Homo sapiens: one gene and its partner. The protein of the gene in region 1 purifies or fractionates together with the protein of each later gene. This does not show direct contact. Each region holds a gene or a part of one and is shown on either strand. Other genes may lie near its edges.

Region 1 (3,849 bases):
GCATGTTATATCAGAACTGTGTGTTTTCATATTTGGTTCCTTCACCGAATGATGACGTCTTCTGAGGGAGGAACTGCAGTATATTCATGGCCCCCAAACCAAAGCCCTTGAGAGAGGATCACATACATCAGAGCCATTTGCCTAAATGTTAACCGGAAAATTAAAAAAAAAAAAAAAAAAAGAATGACTCAATCAATCTAGTCATGGTGAGGCAGATAACAGAACATCCTAACTCAGCCAGCAATTACAATTTCACTGTTAAGACTTTTCAAAGTTGTAGTCTAAAATGTAAATAACCTCGGGAAGAAGTAAAGCTGTTAGTCATTCTTATCTTAGTGAGGCAACAACAACAAAAAAAAAAGAAATCCAAATAAATGGAAAGGATACGCCATTCCTCTAATACGTTTGATTTTTCCTGGATCTGTGAGTTGAATGGGCTTCAAGACCTTCCTCACAGGACATGAGAAAACCACTTCGCCTCCTCCTCCGGGAGGCATTCCCCGTCGCACAATCTACACAGAGAGTGAGAAAGATGAGGCGAGGATGCAGCAAAGCAATGGATTACCCTGACACCCTGCCCAGGAAGGTTTACACCAGCAGATGCTTCCTTACAAGGCATAGCTCTTCCATATTCAATCTGTCATTCCCTTCAAGACCAACAGCACCTTATGTTGGCTCCTAGAGAGTACCTGTGCAGCATGTGTCAAAGTCCAAGTCGATTACCCAAGTGGCTCTGCCACTCATCTCTTTAACCCTGAACAGGTCACTTCTTTATCCTTAAAATATAGAGCTGACCTAGTCCATCATCTGAGCCCATTTCTTAATAATCAGAAACCCCTTTTTCTCCTCCCATGCAAATAACGGATCTACCAAAACATTATTAAATAAAAATGAAGTCATTTCCCCTGTTTAAAACATGAATGTAAAAGGCAGAGATGCTAAACGGTTTACCACATTGGATTGATATAATTCAACAAAATACAGATGCTTAAACTACTTCTACTAGATTTTGGAAATACTGAAAATTCTCAGGGACATCCAGGTTGGGAGCCCCTGAACATAAATTATATCCAGATCATTTAGATCAGAGAGCCAATATGGCCCAAATCTATTCTCCACTGCTTGCTAGCTGAGGCACATGGGCGGAGCTGTTGTGAGGAGAAAAGGAGTTAGTATTTGTAAACTGCTTAGAACGGCCCCCACCGCAAAAGAAGTGCAACATCACTGTCAGCTACTATTGTTATTACTAAAGGGTCCCTTTCAGTTCAAAGTCTGTAGTGTTTATTTCATGAGCCCTGTGAGTCTTCTGATAACTGGTGACTTCAAATGTGACACACATACACTGAGTCACACAGCTCTTCCAATGAGTCAGTGGGAAAATGTTTTCCACAGGAACATATGGTCAACAGTTCAAACATTCTTACCTTCAGTTCAAATGATTCACCATCAATCCCAAATTGTTTCAACAAAGGGAGTGCTGTTGCCTTAAGAACATCAACCTATGAAATTATTTCAGAAAAGAAAAGTTTAATTAAGCCTTCAGCAGAATACAAGAGTCAAAAAAAACAAGTAAGGCTTAGCAACCAGGTAGATGATGCAGTGTGGTAAACAGAAAGGATGCTGGCATATAACTGAGCGAGTGGGCTGGCTCTGCCTGAGGAACACTGTGATTTCACAGGCCACTGGGCTTCTCTGAGCCGCACTTTCCTCATTCATGACATGGAGACCAACACCTACCTTAAAGTCATCGTGTGCATCAGAGGCATCATGCAAAAAGCATGGAGAGACTGGACTGTTGTAGAAAACAAATGGAGAACCCTACTTTTTTTTTTTTTTTTTTTTTTTTTGAGTGGAATCTCGCTCTGTCACCAGGCTGGAGTGCAGTGGCGCGATCTAGGCTCACTGCAACCTCTGCCTCCCAGGTTCAAGCGATTCTCCTGCCTCAGCCTCCTGAGTAGCTGGGACTACAGGCATGTGCCACCACGCCCAGCTAATTTTTGTATTTTTAGTAGAGACGGGGTTTCACCATGTTGGCCAGGATGGTCTCAATCTCTTGAACTTGTAATCTGCCACCTCAGCCTCCCAAAGTGCTGGGATAACAGGTGTGAGCCACCACACCCAGCCTGGAGAACCCTACTCATTCTTATAGGTATAAACGTACAGAAGAAAATCATCTTTTTCATTAACATTTGTCCAGTAGGGTTATTTAATGTTTAGAGCCGGTAGCATTCCGAGTCAAAGCAAACCAAATTAACTATTCAACAGCTCACCTAAGAATGCCAATGATGAGCACCACACAGGCAGCTAAAGGGAAGGTGATGATTTTACATGGGAGTTGGGGAGTCGGGGTGATGACAGCCTCAAACTACAGGAAGCAGCACAAACTCAAAACTACAATTAGTTACAACATCCATAGTTAATGGCAAGACTTTGCCACGTGTAACTGTTATCTCCTCCTGCATTCAGAGCTCCCAGGAAGTCTGGGGTCTTTCTGATCCATTTGTGGATTCCTGATAAGAGTAGAAAGATGGCATTCAAATCAGGTACTGTTATCTAACGAGTTGGCAAATGTTGCCTCAACTGCTACATGGGAAAGAAAATTACTCCATTACTTGTTCCCTTCTTGGATCTGTCAGCTGGCAGGGAGGGCAGGCACCACACAGAAGGCATAGGAAAAGCCCTAGTCCTGGTCCCAGCTCTGCTTCTAATTAGCTATGTTGCCTCAGACAAGAAAATCACAACTATCTGAATTTCCTTATCTCTAAGGCAAGGGGCTCAAGCCCAGCCATCTCCAAGTTACAACTAACTCTAACAGGCTAAGAAGCCCCAACTAAATATTGTGATATCAGAAAAATACCAGACTTAGGAATGACCTGTGAGGCCTAAGAACATGCTTAGAATGGATCAGGTGGGGCAGGGGAAACTAGGAAAACCACTGAAGATTAGCTAATTTTAAATATTAAAGCTACAGCCCGAGCAACATAGTGAGACCTCATCTCTACTAAAAAAAAATAAGCTGGGCATGCTGCACGCCTGTGGTCCTAGCTACTTGAGAGGCTGAGGTGGGAGGATCACTTGAGCCCAGGACTTCAAGGCTTTGGTGAGCCACGATCATGCCACTGCACTCCAGCCTGGGAGACAGAGTGAGACCCTCTCTCTAAAAATAAAAAAATAAAGCACACTCAAAAACTTAATATATGCATTTGGCGTTGCCAGATAAAGAAGAATACAGTCGAGGCTTAAGAGCAGCTGGGGAGAAGGCCAAGTCAGATTCTGAAAAAGTAGGGGATGCAATGCTGCAGTTACTCTGGGCAGCCACCGGCTCTCTCGAGGGAAAAAAAGGTGAAAAAACACAGCATTCCTTCTGGCTCATCCTTCCTATACCTTGAGTCACAAAGAGTGAAGCCAAATTTACTTAGTTCAGCAAGAAGCCCAAGGGTAATTCCAGGTGTAGTCCTGTCCCTTTATCACTCTCCATATGACATGGAAGACAGGCAACTTGGTGCGGTGGGACAAGGGCAGGAAAAGCAGATGAGGGCTTGGGACCTACTCTGCCTCTCACTGGCTGTTAGACCCTAGACAATTCCCTGTCTCCTGGGCCTCAGTTTCCTCCTTCGTAAAATGAGAGGCTGGGCCGAACACTCTCCAGTCTCCTGCAGCTTTGCACATTCTAGTTTTAGCAGAGTGATGGTGGCCTGTAAGTTCTGCTTAAGGGAAAGTGATCGGTCCACTCTGCGGTCAGAGAGAAAAGGCAAAGATCAAACCCTAAGTGGCAGCTCAGGGCAAAGGTATTACCATTACAGCGCAGTCAATCAATCAAAAGGTAAAAATGTAATCAATCTATGCTAA
Region 2 (3,500 bases), on another chromosome or scaffold:
TCCACCACAAACCACAACCTCTAAATGGGAAAACAGCTTGAGATAGTCTTCATAAGCTGGGATTCCTTACCTCGAACAAGTTGAGTGCACTTTACTACATGAGTATGTGGGTGATCAATTGTTAGTTCAAAGCCTTAAAAGAAAAAGTAATGGATTAAAAAACTATTAAGAAGTTTACATTTTACAAATTATTGTAAAAGGATAACTGATTGTAAATTACACCTTACTGGTTTCCACACTAAAATATTAATAGAAATTTATTCCACCAGAAAAACATCATTGTCCCATGAAATATAATTTGAAGATATTTTAAGAAAAAAGTTAACTAGAGGCTGGGCGCGGTGGATCAAGCCTGTAATCCCAGCACTTTGGGAGGCCGAGGCGAGCGGATCACAAGGTCAGGAGATCAAGACCATCCTGGCTAACACGGTGAAACCCTATCTCTACTAAAAATACAAAAATTTAGCTGGGCGTGGTGGCGGGCGCCTGTAGTCCCAGCTACTCTGGAGGCTGAGGCAGGAGAATGGCGTGCACCCAGGAGGCGGAGGTTGCAATGAGCCAAGATTGTGCCACTGCACTCCAGCCTGGGCGACAAAGCAAGACTCCGTCTCAAAAAAAAAAAAAAAAGAAAAAGAAAAAAGTTAACTAGAATAAATTGAGAGATAAACTTTGAAGAACTCATCATATATATATATGTACAAAAAAAATTGTGTCTACGCCAATAACTTTGACGTACAACTCATGAAATCTTACCCTACCTAGAAGAGAAAAATGATAGCCCAAAAGAACCAGGAAAAAAAAAATCTGTATTTTCATATTTTCTAAACTTCTAAAGGCAGCCTGTGTGATGAAAATAACAGATAATAACACAATATCATCAGAGTTGCCCATGCAACCACTAAAGCTTAAGTTCCCCCACTTTCACTCTGCTGTTCTAAACACTAGTTACCAATTTTAAAAACAAATGCTGTTACAGGCCATAACAATCCACGGAAGGAAAAACATTCTTTAGATAGTTTTTATAATTTTTGGGGGTAAAAATCACCAAAACTTAAAAAGCAAATAACCCTAGAATGAAAAAAATAATAACCCACTGGCTGCTGTTTCAAAGGTCAGCTGTACTACCTGCATTCACTCTATGGAACAGGTCAAAGCTAAACTCAGGTCTACAACCTCTATCATCTGGAAACAGAGGGACACTACAAAAACTTTCCCAAGAAATATTCTTCCTATATAGCAAATTTTTAGAATCAAATCATTTTATTGCATAATTTAAAAAAATGTTTCAAAGGAAAATAAACTTACCTAAAGTCTGCAAAATTATGCTTTCTAAAATGACCAGATCTTGAACTTGTTGCAAATAAGCCTAAAAGTGAGAAGACAGAAATTATTCCCTACAAAGGCACAATATATAAAGTATAAACAATTCTAACAATCCCTTCCAGGGAAACCAAAACAATAAAAGGCATGAGTGGAGTTAGGAGGTAGAGTTAAGAACTGAAATACAATCTTTTTTTTTTTTTTTTTTTTTTTTTTTAGACAGAGTCTCCCTCTGTCACCCAGGCTGGAGTGCAGTGGTGTGATCTCGACTCACTGCAACCTCCACCTCCCTGGTTCAAGCAATTCCCCTGCCTCAGCCTCCCAAGTAGCTAAGATTCCAGGCGCGCAACACCACGCCCGGCTAATTTTTTTGTGAAATACAATCTTTATCCCTTATGCCCATTCAGTACACATTTTCTTTAAAAAATAAATAAATAAGTAGTATGCTGAGAGGTAACAGTTTATATATGGCTACAGAAAAAGCACCATATATTTGGTTCATTTTCAGGTTAATATTTAAGTTTTATGGTTCATGTGATTTAGAGAAAAGAAAATTAAAAGTATGTATTTTTTGCTTTTCTTTTTTCTTTTTTTTTTGAGTTGGAGTTTCGCTCTTGTTGCCCAGGCTGGAGTGCAATGGCACAATCTCGGCTCACCACAACCTCTGCCTCCCGGTTCAAACAATTCTCCTGCCTCAGCCTCCCGAGTAGCTGGGATTACAGGCATGCACCACCACACCCAGCTAATTTTGTATTTTTAGTAGAGACGAGGTTTCTCCATGTTGGTCAGGCTGGTCTCAAACCCCCAACCTCAGATGATCCGCCCACCTCGGCCTCCCAAAGTGCTGGGATTACAGGCGTGAGCCACCGCACCCGGCCTTTTTTTTTGAGAGGGAGTCTCGCTCTGCTGCTCAGGCTGGAGTGCAGTGGCGCGACCTCGCCTCACTGCAACCTCTGCCTCCCAGGTTCAAGCGATTCTCCTGCCTCAGCCTCCCGAGTAGGTGGGATTACAGGAGCCCACCACCACGCCCGGCTAGTTTTTGTATATTTAGTAGAGACGGGGTTTCACCATATTGGCAAAGCTGGTCTTGAACCCCTGACCTCAGGTGATCCACCCGCCTCAGCCTCCCAAATTGCTAGGATTACAGGCATGAGCCACCGCGCCTGGCCATAAAGTATATATTTTTCAACATCACCAAAATACATTTGCAGAACCTTCCTACAGTACTGTAAGCATTTAATACCAAACATTTGGCTCCTATTAGAACTTCCCCTTTGGGGCCATGTTAGGTTTCTAAAAAGTAACAGAAGAGTTCAAAGGAAAAGGTAATAAGAAAATTCACTCAGATTTGTGCCAGCCAAAGCTATAGCCACTAGCCACATGTAGCCATTCATCACTTGAAATGTAGCTAAATTGAAACGTGCTATAACCATAAAATACACTGGATTTTTTAGACAGTTAAAAAATAAAGAATGGGCCGGGTGCGGTGGCTCACGCCAGTAATCCCAGCACTTAGGGAGGCCAAAGCAGGTGTATCACGAGGTCAGGAGTTCAAGATCAGCCTGGCCAATATGGTGAAACCCTGTCTCTATTAAAAATACTAAAAAATTAGCTGGGTGTGATGGTGGGCGTGAACCTTGGCTTGTTCCATAGAGTGAATGCAGGTAGTAATCCCAGCTATTCAGGAGGCTGAGGCAGAGAATTTCTTGAACCTGGGAGGTGGAGGTTGCAGTGAGCTGAGATCGCACCACGGCACTCCGGCCTGGGTGACAGAGCGAGACTCCATCTCAAAAAAAGAAAAAAAAAATGTAGCTAGGCATGGTTGCTCACACCTGGAATTCTAACACTTTGGGAGGCCAGTATGGGAGGATTCTTTGAAGGCCAAGAGTTCAAGACCAGCCTGGGTAACATGGTAAGACCCCTATCTCTACAAAAAAATAAAAATTAACTGGGAGTGGTGGCACGCAGCTATAGTCCTAGCAACTTGGGAGGCTGAGGTGAAATGATCACCTGCTCTTTATGAGAATCTAATGCCTGATGATCTGTCACTGTCTCCCATCACCCGTAGATGGGACCATCTAGTTGCAGGAAAAGAAGCTCAGGGTGGCCGGGTGCAGTGGCTCACACCTGTAATCCCAGCACTTTGGGAGGCCAAGGCGGGCGGATCACAAGGTCAAGAG

The links. Proteins that work in one complex are often made in the same cells at the same time.
Region 2: the proteins of RCL1 (region 1) and CCNT1 purify together in Homo sapiens (affinity purification with mass spectrometry; one large-scale study listed by BioGRID and IntAct). This does not show direct contact.

What each region holds. Positions count from the first base shown.
Region 1 is NC_000009.12:4,830,804-4,834,652, reverse strand, and holds part of RCL1 (RNA 3'-terminal phosphate cyclase-like protein), read right to left. Parts: intron 1,500-3,849; coding exon 1,425-1,499; intron 513-1,424; coding exon 388-512; intron 1-387. UniProt on the Homo sapiens protein: As part of the small subunit (SSU) processome, it plays a role in 40S-ribosomal-subunit biogenesis in the early pre-rRNA processing steps at sites A0, A1 and A2 that are required for proper maturation of the 18S RNA.
Region 2 is NC_000012.12:48,699,708-48,703,207, forward strand, and holds part of CCNT1 (cyclin-T1), read right to left. Parts: intron 1,367-3,500; coding exon 1,306-1,366; intron 134-1,305; coding exon 71-133; intron 1-70. UniProt on the Homo sapiens protein: Regulatory subunit of the cyclin-dependent kinase pair (CDK9/cyclin-T1) complex, also called positive transcription elongation factor B (P-TEFb), which facilitates the transition from abortive to productive elongation by phosphorylating the CTD (C-terminal domain) of the large subunit of RNA polymerase II (RNA Pol II).